Regions from separate parts of the Homo sapiens genome. Here region 1 is linked to region 2. A link means that fine-mapping ties the variant in region 2 to the expression of a gene that starts in the linked region. Tissue or cell type: visceral fat. Region 2 holds a variant in brackets; the other region holds the start of a gene. All regions are shown on one strand. Distances are from middle to middle.

Region 1 (8,152 bases), 36 kb after region 2:
TCGTTTTTATGGAATTTTCTTTAACTCATCACATAAATGTCTGAGTAAACTAGGGAGGGTCTATTCAACAAGTATTTATTGAGTAGCTATTATGTGCCAGGGAGTGTGTAAGGCACTAAAGTTCAGTCAACCTGGACCCTGCCAATGAGCAGCACTCAATCAGGAAGCAGCTACATTCAATCATCCAGAGATTTTTTTTCCAAAAAAATCTTCTTTCTATCCTTGTATATTGTTAATTATAAATATCTTATGCTTTACTTTGGGTATTTGGAGTTTCTGTATGTGGATTTTAATTGACACTAGACAGAATCAGTCAAGAAAAATATTCTTATGATCCAATTACCACTATTAGAACAACTGGATGGGATGGGATATAAAACTTTGGTCAACTGTACTTCATTTGGATAACAAAAATGTACATTTTAAATCATTCCAGTAGTGTATCATATGAAAGTAAATTACAATGAAAAGCACACTGGGCTTGGAGTCCAAAACCCTGGGTCCAGTCCAGTCCTGGTTCTAGCCTTGTATTTTTTCCCATGGACAAGTCAGTTAACTTCTAAGAAGTAGTTTTCTCATATGTAAAATGGGATATAGCATTTTTCCCAATTTACTGTATTTAAACATACTGTATATTTCTAACCTATAAAGTCCTATAAAGATGATGTCATTATCATAAGTACTGGGCTGTACTGATTCTTCACTTTAAATAGATGATTCCGGAATAAATCAAGAATTGTTTTGTTAACAGCCTGGATCAATTATCAAAGGGACCTACTTACACTTCATTTTAGGTGATCGCAACGAAACGTATCTATAAAAGCTTGTGAGGCCCTCCTTTGAAATTTGCTTTGAGATGAACATCATGGATCTTCTGTTAAAAGATATAATCAGCTAAATTTAATTTTCTAGGAAAAGGAAGATGTTTGAAGAGCAGCATGTATGTAAAGAGGTTCAGAAATTACTGCATGAGCCCTTATCAGCACCACCAGGTCCTACCCACTTTTGCCTAATAATGCATCGTTGCCCTGTAGCCTTCAGGGGAAACCAACGCTGGGGGGAGTCATGCCTCACAGTGTGGGGTCAACTTCTAAGCTACAGTGGTCAGAGTATGGTAATCATATCACTTGCGCATATTCGAGAAAGCTCCTCCAAACCAGATCAGCTGGATTTTTGAAATACAGATATTTTTCTGTAATACTCTCAATTACATTTAAAAACGTCAACCTGGCTTTTCGTTTTCTGTCATCACTCCCTCCCAGTCTATTTTTTTTTTGTCAGCAAATAGTGGGACCAATATCCCAAGAAGGATCTCCTTCACTGCACAGGTACAATCCCAAAACATTAAGAGGAGAGAATGGGTCTACTCTTCATGCTTGAAGCAACACCCTACACAGCCCTACAAGTCACCTCCTCAGTTCTGTACTGGGGTATGAAAAAGCCTCAGACCTGCTCATGCTCTGTCCACTTCACTTCATTTCAAATGTGACGCCATAAAACCGGCAGGGGGCAGGGACTGTTGGGTGTTGTGTAGTGTTAACTGTCAATGCTATCCTTGATGCCAGTAACGAAGCATCAGAATAACACTAGTAACAACAATAACAGTGATTCTTTCACTCCTGACACCTTTCCTAAAGGACAAGTCATCATGTCTCTAAATGAAAAAAATTAAAAAAAAAAAAGTGCTCACTCCCACACTTTACATTACCATGACTAATGAAGGTCCATCTTCCTGTCCCCTGGCTCCATATCTACCAAAAGTAGGGGCTGGATGCAGAAAGAAAAAATTAAACATATAATTTAAAATTGAAGACAGTTATTTCCTTGGTTCCGTAAGTCTGGATTTTTATAAGCTGTATGAACTCATTTGACCAGAGAGTCATCAGCTAGAAATAAGTTCGGACCACTGCTAGGCTTGGTTTTGATTTTACTCAGACACCTAGAAGATGAAAAACCATCCCAGTTCTTAAAACAATCCACTGATTTTTGACCATTGTCCTTTAAAGTTGCCCTTTAGATATGGAGGCAAACCAAGCCTCCGTCTCTCCAGTCTCAACCTTCTCCTATAGCACTGTTTTCTGTCCTGAACTGATCAAAATCAAATAGGGAAGAAGTAATCCAGTTGAAAAGAGATCTGATAATGCTTGTTGATGTCTCATTAACCTTGAGAGTGACTGTAACTGGTGACTGCCTGTCACAGTGGTGTGATGGTTTGTGGGTGGGGGGGGAAAGGCAATGGAAACGTCACCTTGAAAAAACACAAAAAGAGAAATATCATTTAGTAGATCATCAATCAAAAGACGGGGCATTTCCAACTGTCAGAACTGGTTAAATTACAGTTTCCTTATGCCCATGATGAATCTACTATGTGTTTTCGTGGGAAAGCTTTTGGAGCAGTATTTATCTGTGTCCCAAAATATAGTCACTAAAGTATTGAGAGAAAAAAGAAAACCACTTTGATGCTGGAAGTCTAATCATGAGAAAAACAAACATCTCGGGATTAATGTTATTAAGGTTCTGTGATGAGTAAATGTGTGATGTGTGCCATTAAAAATATCATGAGCCACTCCATGTGGGAAGATCCTAATTCCATTGAGCCCCTAGTCAGATTCCCCTCATTACTAATTGCTAATTGATAACATGTCAACAAACGGACATAGGAAAATAATGAAAATTAGCTTGTCTCTAGGGATAAACTATTACCTGTAGAGGAAAAGAAGAGGAAAGAGTTCCCCAGGTTTCCCGGCAGACTCCCCTTGGGATAAGTAGACTAGAAATCTAACCAGCCTCTAGTACCAGATCTGGACTAGAGACTCACACAAAACGATCACCTTCCATCCCTCTGCACCAGAGTCCCAGCTGGGACTGGTTCTTGTCTGCCCTCCCCAAAGGAGAACCTTAAGTAAACAAGCCCCACAGTCCCCATCAGGGATTCAGATGGAACATTCTCACCTATTTTTACTTTTCTCTCCCGAGGTCTCCACTTTTCCATCTCTAGTCCTCACTCCTCTGCTTTTCTTAGGAAGTTCCTGAAAGTTACCACCATTAACCTCACTTTCCACATCAAATTCCCACCTCAAGCTGATGGCACAACCGGTTTCTGCGAGTGTCACCCTCTAACCAGCTGCTCGGTTTCCTGTGCTCTTCTCGGGGTCACACAGCCTGGCTTCTGTTCTCACCCTTCGGGCTCTGCCCCTCACCCCCATGCTCAGATGCACCCAAATAAAAGTGGATTGATCGGTTCCCTCTTTTCCCAAAGTTTTGGCATTTCTTGAGGAGCTACTGTGAAAGACGAAGGAACTGCGAATTACAAACATAATTTCATACCCTAGAAGATAGAGATGGCTACCTCGCTCCGGAGAAGAGAGCAGCAGGGCAGCCCCCTGTCCTCGCCAGAGACCACACTTCTTTCTGGGTGGGTGGGAGGCATCTTCATCACCATCCCGCCTCACATTCTTTTGTCCTTTCCCAACATCCCACACCAACAACCGTTCCCCAAACACTCCGGGGGGCCAGAAAAAGGGAGAAACAAAACTGAGGACAGGGAGGGGTATCTCGGAATCCCCTCCAAGCATAGTATTTTGTTCTCAAGTAGTAGGACTTTCCAGAATGTCTTCTCTCGTTCTGCTCCTTGCTGGCCCAGTTACCCCAAAGCCTCCCCACCCCCAAGCCCACTGCGACCAAAACAAGCGCACCGACCACAGCACTGTGGCCGCCGCCGCCCCAACTGTTGCAGCAGCTGCGGGGTGGCGGTAGAGGCGACGCGGGCAGGGCCGGACCCGGACCCCGACGCTCCTTGTCCAGGAGGCTGGGAGGCTCCAGTCGGCCGCCCTGGGGCGCGCGGTGCAGGAGAGTCCCTGCGGCAGCTGCCTGGGCTAGGAGAGGTGGCGCTCTCAGCCGGGACCCCAGCGCAGAGCCAGCCCGACCGCGGCCGCGGCGCTGGCGGAGTCTGCCCGCACCCGTCCCCTCTCACCTTTAAGATCAGGTCGGTGTGATGCTGGTCCAGCATGTTGGCTTTCTGGAAGGAGGTGACGATGACCCGGCCGTAGCGCCCGGGGGTCTGCAGGTCCGAGTAGAGACGGTGCTTGGAGCGGTTGACCGGGAAGAGGCTGTTAACGAGGTTGCGCTCGATCTTGGCCAGGCTGTGCTGGGGCGCCAGCAGGTGCTCCACGCTCTCCTCGACCTGGTAGCGGCTGAAGCTGGCGCCGAGCAGGATGGAGATGAGCACCGGCGCCGAGGCGAAGAAGACAGGGTGACTGGCAATGAAGTGGCCGAGCCGGGAGAAACACGTCCTCAAGCCCCTGTGCAGAACCTGCCGCAGCATCCTAGAGCAGAGCGGGCGCGGGAGGAGGGCGAGGCGCACGCTCGGCGCGGGTTCGGGCGGCGGCGGCGGCGGCGGCGGCGGCGGCGGCAGCGGCGCCCGCGGCGGCGGCGACGGCGGCGGCGGCGAGACCCTGAGCTCTCCCGGAGCCGCGGCACCACCATCGGGGAGTCCCGCGCCGCGCCTCGGGAGGGTCCCCTCGAGCCGGAGACACGCCCTCCTGCCCGCGGCCGCGCCCTCCCGGAGAGCCCCCCAGCTTGGCGGCCTCTGCGCCGCCCCCACTCCGCCCTACCGCGTGCGCCCTCCCCACCCCCCGCGGCCTCCCCGCCAGGGGGGCTCCGCGCCGCGCGGCCGCGTCCCCTCTCAGCGCGGGCGGGGCCCGGGGCAGCCCCCGCGGCTCGTCATGACCCCACTCACCCGACCCCCAAGGCCAACGACGGGGTGGCGCGGGGAGCGGCGACGGCGCTATCGCCAGGAGACTCTGCGCGCCCGCCCAGGAACACGAGGACGGAGAATTCCAGGCTACACCCAGTCCCCTCCCCTCCCTTCGCTCCCCTCCCCCGGTCCGGCCCGCCAAGCTCGCTCTCCCCTTCTCTGCCCTCCTCCGGGAAGACCCAGAGATAAATAAAGAAATGGCCCCGATTTTCCAAACAAAAAGTAAAGAGTTCTCAGGAGTGGGGGGAGGGGGCGGGTGTCGGGCGGACCCGCTCAGAGCCGAGTCTCTCCAGAGGCTTAAAGGAGCAGGCTGAAGACTGCGTGCGTCCCGGCTCTCGCCAGGCTCAGGTGGTGGCGCGCACTGGCTGGTGCCGAGAGGGGGTGGGGAGCGAAGACGCTCGAACGTGGAAATCACGCCTCCTTCCAAATAAGAACCGTTTAAAATACCCCCAACACTGCAGCTTCGGCGGGACCACGGGGTCCGGGTGTGTGTCTGGAGCACGTCCACTCAAAAGGTATCCGTGGAGAATCTTTCTCTGTGGCTCTAATTTAGGGTCGCTCCAGAGTGGATTGGGGCTGGCCAGCTCTGTTGCACACCCCCCAACCTCCCACCCAGTCCTTTAGTAATAAAAGTGCTGATAATGACGGTCAGTCGATGGAACTGTCCGTCGCCTGGGCTCCCGGGCTCCCGAGCTCCGGGGCTCCCCGGCTCCCGGTTCTTCGCCCTGCCTTCTCTTCCTCCTCCTCTCTCTGTCGTCACCAGCAGGTCTGGGGGACCTGGTGCGGCGTGGCTGGCGCGGGCGCCCCTGCGGGCGTAGAGTGTTTGAGAAAGGCTGGCCAGGGAGTCAGTAGCATTAACCCCCTTCTCTGCCTCACTCCGCCCTCTCCTCCCCTACATGCGAAGGTGTGAGAGTGGAGGGAACCTTATCTCAGAGCAGGAGAGATACAGGTCTCCGAGCGTGTTGAGCCGCAGGGGGCGCGGGGGAGCCCGCGGGGCGCCGACGGCTTGGCAAAGTTGGGCGTGTGCGTGTGCGCGCCAGCCGTGAGCTAGCAGGCAGTCACCGTGGTTCCCCTCGCACTCCCCCTCCGGAGAATTCCCCGAGAAGGCGGGCGCCGGCTTCGGCCCCGGGATAGACCTGCGGCGGCGGCGGGAACGGCCACGCACAGGTACAATTTAGCGCGTTTCATTTCGCGCTCCAAGCTCCTGGGTCTGTCCACTGCAACGCAGACCGAGCGGGATCTCGGAGTCTGGGTCACTGAGGCGCTCTCTCCAGCCAGGGGGGTGGGATACAGGGCGCGGCGAGGGGTCCTCAGACTCCGCGCTCTGAGCGCTCAGCCTCCCCATCCCAAGCCTTTGGTCGCTACAGCTCAGTCTCCCAGTGCCAGGGGTCGAACGGGAGGCGGTGGCCCGCACTACGGAGCATAGACATGCATATTAATCAAAGCTGAAGGAAGACGAATAGGGACAGGAAGAGGAAGGGGAGTGGGGGGGGGGGAAGAAAGAGGAGAATGGGTAGGAGAATGCGCCTCGGGGAGGCATTTCCCTAACGTTCCCATTCCAGACTCCCCTACACCTAGCGGCCCTTCACTTCTCAAACTGAACTTGGGAACTTGCACGTTGGAAACAGCAAGTCGCGGTTTGGGAAATCCTCCTTATTTGATGATCTCCTCCCTTCCCCCATACCGGACTTCCTTCCTACCTTTCCTCAGCAACACCTGCTCCTGCTGCGCTGCCCACCCCGGGGGCGCACCTGCCCTGCTCTGCTTGTGCTCCCTAGATCCTTCCACCCATTTCTCGTCCACTTTCTGTGCTCATCTTCGTTATTCCCTACACTGCTCTGTTTCCAGAGGCTCCCCGCGACGCCTAAGTCCAGCAGCTTCCAGCTGACTCCCCTCCCCCAGTATCGCCGTCCCTGGGAGGGACACATTGGAAGGGGCTAGAAATTCCCCTGCCACACTCCACTCGTGCCGTTCCCCCAGCATCTTAATTTCTGCTCGTGGAGGTGCCGCTGCTCTGCAGCGCTTTGCTGATTCACCATGATCGCGGAGGGAAAAGCCTCATTGACTTGTGCCCCTGCAAGCGGCGAGGCGAGCGCGAGTGGCTGCGAGGGCACGCGCTTTGGGAAACCACCCACCATTGCGTAGCCGAGGTGCTAAATGACAGGGTGGATGCCCTGCGTGGCTCTCAGCCCGGGCAGACGGAAAGATGGAAGGGCGGGGAGGAGGGGTGGCGGTGGGAAATACTGCGAACCCAGCTCTTTGCGACTGAGCCAGCGGCAGCTAGTGGGTGGGCACTTCTCAGGAGGCCTAAAATCGGTCGCTGCACAGGGAATGAACAGAGCTGTTTCATGTGCCCCGATGCCAGCGCAGGGATAAAAGTAAGAGAAGGAAAACCAGCCGACAGGTCTGCTTAGGTGCCTTTAACATTTTGGCGAAGCTGTTTTCATTCTGAAGTCTTTGACCCTCCGATTGGCTCCCTTCCAACCTCGGTTCGCCCTCGTCCCTAGAATTTCCGGCCTTTTAATGTCAGCCCTCACAAGGGCTGAAGAACAGAGTGCCCTCCCTCAGTGCCTGGGCTGAATCTTAGAGCGGGAGAAACTGCATTGCTCAGCTGGCCAGGGCGAGAGTGTTGTCCTCCCACACAGAAAAGGCCTTTCCTTTGGGACCAAGGCATTTGTTTCTAGTCCTCCCAACTCTATTCCTAACTGTCCTTATGTATATTTGGAGGAGCTTCTAACCTGTATGTTTCAATTTGGAGACAGAACCAACTAAGTGTGGACCTTGGGCCACCTTTTACTGCAGGCAATCCCGTTAGTGTTGTCTAAATTGAATTGGAGCAGCAGAGAGAGTGAGAGTGAGGAGAGAGGAAAGAGAGAGGAGAGAGAGGGGGAAGAGAGAGGCGAAAGAGAGGGGAGAGAGAGAGGGGCGAGAGAGAGGGGCGAGAGAGAAAGAGAGCCCACACGTAAGAGTGCAGGAAGGGTGTTGCCTCCCCCCGATTTTTCTTCTCTTTTTGTAGAAGTTCTGGGGAGCATTGCCTCCACCAACGACTTGGGTTTGCATTTGGGCCAATGACTTTGTGATCAGAGCTTTCACCAGTACGTTAATAAATTGTTACCTTTTCTGATTTAAAATTAATACATATTAATTTTAGACAATTTGGAAAGTAAGAACAAGAAAAAGAAGGAAACAAAAACACCTGTATCGGTGTACTCACACTACCTTTCAACCTTTGTCGATCATTTATTGTACACATAGGCAATATAATGTAGAAGTTGAGGCTTTTGGTTCTGTAGCCACTGAGTTGAATCCTTGCTCCACTATTTATTAGCTAAAATGCAGTGGGTAACTTTACTTTTTTATGGCACAATTTTTCTCTTCTGAAAAATGGGAATAACA
Region 2 (8,172 bases):
AGACCTGATTCTCAAGTCTTACTCCACAGCAGGACACTTAGCATACACCAACAAATTCAGCAGTGAGCATGAAGACAACTTGGGGGTGGATAAAGAATTGTCAGCCCGGCCGGGCGGCGCGGTGGCTCACGCCTGTAATCCCAGCACTTTGGGAGGCCGAGGCGGGCGGATCACGAGGTCAGGAGATCGAGACCACGGTGAAACCCCGTCTCTACTAAAAATACAAAAAATTAGCCGGGCGTGGTGGTGTGTGCGCCTGTTATCCCAGCTACATGGGAGGCTGAGGCAGGAGAATGGCGTGAACCCGGAAGGCGGAGCTTGCAGTGAGCGGAGATCGCGCCACAGCACTCCCGCCTGGGCGACAGAACGAGACTCCGTCTCAAAAAAAAAAAAAAAAAAAAGAATTGTCAGCCCACCTGCTTCAAGTGACTGGCAGTGGATATGATTGAGCTATGGGATGGCCACAATTGGAGATCTGGGGTCCAATAAGAGAGACCAGAAATAATCCAAACAGCTAAACTCATGTTCAGACAGCAGCAACATTACATGGCAGTATTAACAGGTAACGAAGGGGATGGGTTTAGAGTTTAACGATTTTTCTTAATCTCCATCCAGCCTCTGGTGTTGCTAAATAAAGCTTTTCAAAGACAGGCTTCCTAAGAAAAAAGGTCCTGGGGCACAATGGAATCCAGTAAGAAAAAGTTTTGGCTTCCAGTGTCGCTTCCACTACCTACCTTAAGAGTGTCAGAAACTTCAGGAATCCCACTCTGCTTCTTTAAGTCTGAAACTTCAGTTCTCATATTTATCAGTTAAAAAGGGTGTTGGTCTAGCTAATATTTAAGGACAGACCCTTCCAGTTTTAACACTACATAATTCTAAGATGAGTGATATCCACAAACTACATAATCAGACACCAGGTGAGAGAAAGTTAACTTAATAAATATCAAATTGAACATTATTACGGCTACTTGAGGTATGCTTTTCTGACACACTGAAGTTCTTTTTCAGGGCAATCCGATCTGATAGATGAAACCCAGAAGGAAAACGGTAAAGAATATAGGTTTACTGGAAAAAAAAAAAAAAAAGATTTCCCTCTCTGAGTGATTTCCCATTCTGGGGAGGCGTTGGCTCTTATAATCCCCTTCTGCCAGATCCTGGGACAAAGCCAGTGTGGGCTGCTTGGTCACGACAGGCCAGAGTCTAATTTCCTCTCTGCCTCTCCTTGGCACACTCAGATCTTCCTCAGAAGACAGCAGGGACACTTTGCAGAGGACAGTACAGAAGGGAGGAAGGATGTATCTGCTCCTGAGTGGTGATTAACACAGGAAAAATACCTGTGGGTTTAGAGGATCTTATACAATACCTTGCAGGGTTTTGGGTTTTTTTTTTTTTTTTTTTTTTTTTTTTTGTATTTGTTTCTTGTTGAAAAGGGAGGAGGGAAGGAGGAAGGCCACTCTGCCCATGCAGGGCAATTAACATGCTCTGGGGTCAGCCTCAAACAGTCCCCAAGCAATCTCATCTGTGAGGGAAGACTCGGAGTTCGTATGGGTTCCCCATGTCGCAGCAGGATGGAGCTCCAGTCACCTCCAGTGGGAGTTAGCCTGATGACACCCCCTTTATAGGCTGTCTTCCCTTCCTTGTCTCACGTTTCCACCCCCTTCCCACTTCTTCTACTCCCAAATAAGCTGCATACATTAAAAAAATGTAAAAAGGAAGATTATGATTTGACTTCTTAACCTATATCATCCGTCCCCAAATATTACCTTCCAAGTGACACAATCAAAACTGCTTAAAAATGCTTTCAAGGAATATCTGGTTTTCACCCCTAAATAAAATGTTCCCTTCACTGAATCCCTCCAAACTACATGTCTTGATCTGGGTCTATATTCTGCAACTGTAAATGGGCAGGTGCTAACTGGCAAGGTATCCTCACTCAGGACGCAAGAAAACACCTTGAAGTGGATGGATCTGGCTGCAGCAGTTCATAAATTACGCTAGCTCCCTTGGTGTTATGTTCTGTCTTTGCATGATCTCACTCTCACCCACTCTCTTTCCTCTTCTTTTAATAGAAATGCATTACATCAGAACACCAGAAGTCGCAAGTTAGGGATTGTTACCGTGATTCATTTGTAGTGCAGCCAAAAGCAAGTTAGTCATCCCTTAATAAGTGAACAGAAATATCATCCTGCCTTTGAAATATTACATTTCCAGAGGACACCAAATTTAAGCTGTGGATATAGCCAAACAAGTGACTATCTATCCACACACTTCCTCTGCACATGTGTGCCTGGTGCCATGCTCACCTGCTCCAGTGACAAAAGACAAATGGTTACCTCTGTCAGTAATGCAATGCTAGTGCAGGTCTGGGAGAGTTGAATAGTTCTGTTTTGCTCCTTACTCTACAAGGTGGTAAACACTCTTATTGCGGGTACTGACACTGAAAAGCAGCCAAGACAGCCCTTATTGTAACTCTCCAAACAAGCTGAGTTTGTCTTTGCAGGCTTGGCTGAAAAAACAAGGCAGCTTTAGATTTGAAGCAGAGAAATCTGAGATTTTAGAAACAAAAAATAGTGATGGTGAAGGAAAATGCAATTGCAGTATCTCATTGCAACTTCTGCCTGACTCCACACTGGTATGGATAAGACAGTCAGTACAGTGAACCACAGGTTCAACAATCTCTTTATTCCCGTAGTCTGGGAGAAAATTTCACTTGGTCTTGATTTGTGAAAAAATCCTTCATATTATGAAGATACTTGGCAGTCTGTAAAGTTGAACTTTCTGATTAGAATGTTTAGAGTGGCTGATAGAGTGGCTATTTTTAAATTCCCTAAATCCTCACTTGAGTTTCATGGTCAAGCTTAAGCTGTAGTTGAGCTAGCTTGTGGGTGAAGAGTTTTGTTGGATAGCTCTAAGAGGACCCGATGCTCACAGAAACAGGAGAATGTTAAAGCTGATTGGCTGGACAAATGGCAAAGGAAAGTCCCAAGGAACCAAATGTTTGGGCTTGGGAACAGGCAACAGCTGTTACAAGATTTGATTAGCAGACCACAAATAACCATGCCAGGAACAGGAAAAACAG[C/G]ATGCCAAGGACATTCAGGTCTAGAGAATGACCAACCATGGACCTGAATGGGAGGAGCACTGTATCAGGAGTCAGAAGGCTTCAATTTTAGTCCTGGTTCTGGGTTTTGCTGACCACATGACTTAGAGATAAACAAAACAATGAACCTATGAAAACACGTCACTTCCCTGCTTTAAATTCCCCTAGAGTTCCTCATCATGCTCAGAGCATTGACTTTGGCGCCTGACATGAAACATTCTCCTTGCTGACCTCTCTTCTCTGGACTCCCATCTCGCTATTCTCACATTGCAGTGCTCGTCTTGCTCTTGATTCTGCCTGGGACATTCTTCTTCCAGACACTTAAAAAACTTCTGTTCTCACTGCCTTTACTTCCCTGCTTAAATGCAATCATCTTTCCTGAGCTCACCCCTAATTTAAAAAAAAAAAAACACTAGTATGTTTGCCCATCACCATCATCTTTTCTTGTTTTAATTTTTTCATGGTACCATCATGACATGACATTATCATCATCTCTGTTTTTATTCTGCTGCCCCCATTCAAATATGAGTTCTGTCATGCCAGAATGTGTTTCTGTTTGGTCCACCTCTACATTTCCATTAACTAGAACAGTGCCTGGAACACATAACAATTGTGAAGTAAACACATGAATATAATAATCTCATGAGTAAAGGGACTTTAGTTTGTCTCATCATGGGCATGATGAAAGCCAAATGAGATGATGAGTGTGCATGCATTTTGTCAACTTTTGAGAGCTACACAAATACAATTGTATTATTATACAGCAGGAAGCATGGATGCTAGCTCCTCTGGTGAGTGGTCTTACAGCTTCCAAACATAATCTACAATTGAGTCCTGGAGCCCCTAATCCTTCCCGACTTGACAATATCTTGTGCTTTTGTGGGAGGGACATGGGTTATGAGGTTAGAATGCCACAAGTTCAAATCCTGCCTCTGTTCATAACACAGCTGGGCCCTGCGCATATCCCCTCATCCTTACCACTTCAGTGCACATATCATATCTATTTCCAGCCTGATGTGGAAATACTGGGGCACTAACATACTATCTCAATTCTAAGCAGGCTGGACCTATGACTAAAGACAGTCTGTGTATGAACAGCCCAGCTCACATGTCCTCCTAAATGGGATAACCCTACAACATGTGTTCCTCACTGTTTCCCAGAGTTCCCCAGCAGGATTAAACTCCAGTTGCCCACAGAGTAGCTGGCTTGACAATGCCTCCATAGCCGACGGCTTTTCTTCCCTGCCTCATGATGCTGTTCTCTTCTCAGTGCTTCCTGGGATTATCTTCCAAATATTGTACTCTCATGAAGTGCTTGACTCCAGGTTAGCTTCTGGGGGAGGTCCAACTAAGACAGTGAATTTAGATTTTTAATTCAGTTTTGTTATCTGAATTATGGGAATAATCCTTACCTCATAAAGTCATTATGATTACCTATAAAAGGTGTCTGGCCTGGCATTTAGTATTAGGTTAAACCATATGAAATTGCCATTTCTATAGGTTAAAAAGTAGTTGAATAGCGGCAATTTTATGTGAGTCACCTACCTGAGCTTTCGTCAGTGTTTGTTCTTTCCCCTCCTGCCTCTCCTCCTCCCCAAGAGTCCTGTCAGAACCTGAGCTTCCTGAGGGGGCTATCAGACAATTTTGTTTGGTTTCCAAGAGACAGTTTGGTGGTATCAGGGCAGGATTTTAGAAAAAAGACAACAGTTTTGGGCTAGGAAGGATCTCAGAAATCTTCTCATTCCCGTCGTTTTAACTTATGAAAAAAATCAAAATGCCATATAACCCACATCCCCAAGATATTTGAAACTGAATAATAATACTGTTAAATCAAAAAATATACAAATGTCTTCATCAGATGAGCTCTTTGGTAACATTTTTTCTTTGAAAGGATTTGCTATGTTTCTAATGGGCACTGAACTTGAGAACAATGGAAATTATGGCTGATGAAAGAAAAAATAAGAAGAAAGTTCCACCTAATGATATGGTAACAGCTCTCCTTAATGATGGACCATAAGCCTTACCAAGGATGAGTACCTGTAATTCATAAAATAACGTATTATAGGACAGTGCATTTCTTCCTGACAATAATTCTTCTCTGTTCTCAAGGTTCTCATACAAAGCTACTGCCCTTAAAAATCACAGGAGCATTTCAGCCACTGCCCTCCCTTTCCTGATCTGAAAAGAGGTCTCACAGGGCAAAAGGTCAAACTATGATAGTTTCTATGACTCGGCTTGCAAAGGCCTCGACCCTTCTGGGAGGTGCTGATGTTGGTGGCATGGTTTGGCATGATGGAATCAGACTGCCTAGGCTCAAATCCCAGCTTTGGCACTAAGGAGATGTGTGATCCTGGACACTAAGCTATTATGTAATGGCTATCCCTTGCCTCAGCTTATTCATCTGTAAAATGGGGCCAATAATAGTACCCATCTCATTAGGATTGTTGAAGGATAAATCAGAAATTGAATGTAAATTGCTCTGTACAGTCTCTGAAACACAGGTGGTACCCAGTAAATGTCTGATAGCAAAGACAAAATGAACAAACAGAAAACCCCATTTCTATCTTCTGTTGTGTCTTGTCTACTTCAACTTTCTTTTCCTTTAAATAGTGAAACTTCCTCCATTTTTCTTGAAAAGTATATTCAATGAAATGTAAAGGTGACCGATTTTTGCTCTCATCTTTGCTGAAAGACTAAGGGGTAAATGGGGTTAGAAGCATGGATCAGTACAAATATTTGAAGGGAACAGCTGGGTAGTATGTGTTTAAAGTTGGCCCTCCTTAATCCCAGTATAAGCTCCAAGTTTGAAAATTGTCCCATCATCTGCAGGTTAGCTCTCTAGTTAGATAACTGTGCACATCAATTAAAGGAATCCAGTCTAGGCAGGAAAAGATGGTAGGGGTAAAAGAAGGAAACTAAAAGGTACTAAGTGCTTGCTAAGTGCCGGACATTGTGCAAAGAATGCTACAATCTATCATCTTATTTAACCCTCACAGCAAATCAGGGAGGTAGATATTACCCCTCCATCTGCGCGTGAGGAAGCTGAGCCTCTAGGAGCTTAAATAACTTGTCCATGGCCACAAATTTAGTAAGTGGATCAGCCCAGATTTAAATCCTGGGCTCAGAAAATTGTCCCCTAATGAGAGTTCTTCTGGAAAAGTAAAGACTTTATCCCCTAATCTCTGTGCTTTGGACATTTGGATATTGATAAATTTGCTTTCTGGTATTAGGCTTAAACGTGGTCAACTCACAGCAGGAGATGGTGATGAGGTAGCAAAGTCGGGGGTCAAACATGACAAAGCAGTCTAGAAAAGCAACAAAACTCCGACCAGTACTAAACAGTAAAACCCAGTGAATGCCAGATATTTACAACAGAAACCTCAGAAAGAAGCCACAAGCCCATCACCAATGACAAGCATGCGCAAACAGCTGGAGATGAAGAAAACAGATGTGAAAAGGGAGAAGACTTTCATCAGTCAAAATAGCATCTTTTGCATCATGTATGTGTCTTTTTTTTCTTTTTTGAGACGGAGTATTTTTGCTTTTGTTGCCCAGGCTGCGGTGCAATGGCATGATCTCGACTCACTGCAACCTCTGCCTCCTGGGTTCAAGCGATTCTCCTGCTTCAGCCTCCCGAGTAGCTGGAATTACAGTTGCTCACCACCACGTCTGGGTAATTCTTTGTATTTTTAGTAGAGATGGGGTTTCACCATGTTGGCCAGGATGGTCTCGAACTCCTGACATCAGGTGATTCACCCGTCCTGGTCTCCCAAAGTGCTGGGATTACAGGCGTGAGCCACCGCACCCGGCCATGTATGTTTCTTATATAACCCCTTGACCTCAGAAACACACGACGAAAAAGAAAAAAACAAAACAAAACTTTACAGAACATATTTGTATAAAGGGGCTTGCGGTGTGTGGATTTACTGAAAATATCAGATTGAAGTTGGGGGTCTTATAGGACTTGGGTATCATCTCTCCCCACGGGGAGTTTTACACTAGAATATATATGCTTCACGACGGCAGGGATTTTGTTTCGCTCAATCCTATCCCAAGTACCTAGAGTAGTGCCTGGCACATAAAAGGAGCACAACAAAGATGTGCTGATGAAACCTTTAGTGTTTGTTCCTTCTTGCTGATTTATATTTCTCCGGTGACATTGAATGATACTTCATTTGTACCCAAAGGCTACTGTGCTACATGCATATCATTTACATCTTAAATAAACAGATGACATTGAATTTGCTCCTGTTGCTTACATGCTGCAGACAAATGGCTGATCTCATTAGACAAATGGATATGGTTAAACTATAATCTAAAAAAATAAGAGCAGAGAAACAATTTAGGTAGGCAACTGAGGTCTGAAATAATTATGTGCTATGCTTAATCATAGGGTAGTTTGAATTTTTCAAGTGTATTTGTTTTTCATATTTCCTTTTATTTTGAAAAGTTTTTTTTTTTTTTTTAAATACAGAAGTCTGGAGACTATTGTAAGAATTTCTATGTACCTACCATCCATGTCTATCTGAAGATTCTGCTCCTCCTGTTAATGCTGTTGATGGGTAGTGTGACCATATAATTTATCATCCAAACTGGAACACTTTTGGGAGTGCAAGAGGGCAGTGTTAATTTCACAGGAACAATAGGCATAAAATGGGACTATCACAGGCAAACTAGGTTGTATACCCTTCCTATCTCTGGATGTCTCAGACGATGCAAGCACTGATGTAACTTCATCTGCTTATGCCTCACAGCCGACCTGAGGTGACAGTCCTTTGGTTTGTAGCCCACTGCTGCTGATGGAACCTAGAATATTGCACGTGATACTATCCTGTCATCATAAAGGTCTCCAGGAAAATAATTTGGAAAAACTCCTCTTGTCTGTAATCACTTCCAACCACACCTATGCTCCCACTATTGCAACTTCCTTCCACGTCAAGACTCGGATGTTTTTGCAAGATTCAGTTATCCTGCAGCCTGGTTTTGCTTGCTACTTTAGAGGTGGAGTGCATCCATAGGACCCTCAGAACATTTCATCTACCTTCCCTGAGCACGCCAGCCCTACTGAAATTGAC

Which allele goes with the higher level. Alleles are on the strand shown, and positions count from the first base shown. SD is a standard deviation of normalised expression in the study named.
As copies of C replace G in region 2, the expression in visceral fat of the gene that starts at base 4,351 in region 1 goes up (small effect, 0.24 SD a copy in GTEx).

The links. PIP is the estimated chance that this variant, and not a neighbour inherited with it, causes the effect.
Region 1: PTCHD1 starts here. The variant in region 2 is fine-mapped to the expression of PTCHD1 in visceral fat (GTEx, PIP 0.98).

Annotation. Positions count from the first base shown.
Region 1 is chrX:23,331,048-23,339,199 of GRCh38, reverse strand. It overlaps PTCHD1 (patched domain containing 1), which reads right to left and starts at 4,351. Exons shown (of 3, transcript NM_173495.3): 1 at 3,974-4,351. The coding sequence starts at 4,324.
Region 2 is chrX:23,367,517-23,375,688 of GRCh38, reverse strand. All of the region lies in intron 1 of PTCHD1 (patched domain containing 1), which reads right to left. Among named protein-coding and RNA genes, the nearest start is that of PTCHD1, 37 kb to the right of the region's middle. The variant C/G (reference allele first, on the strand shown) is at 3,080.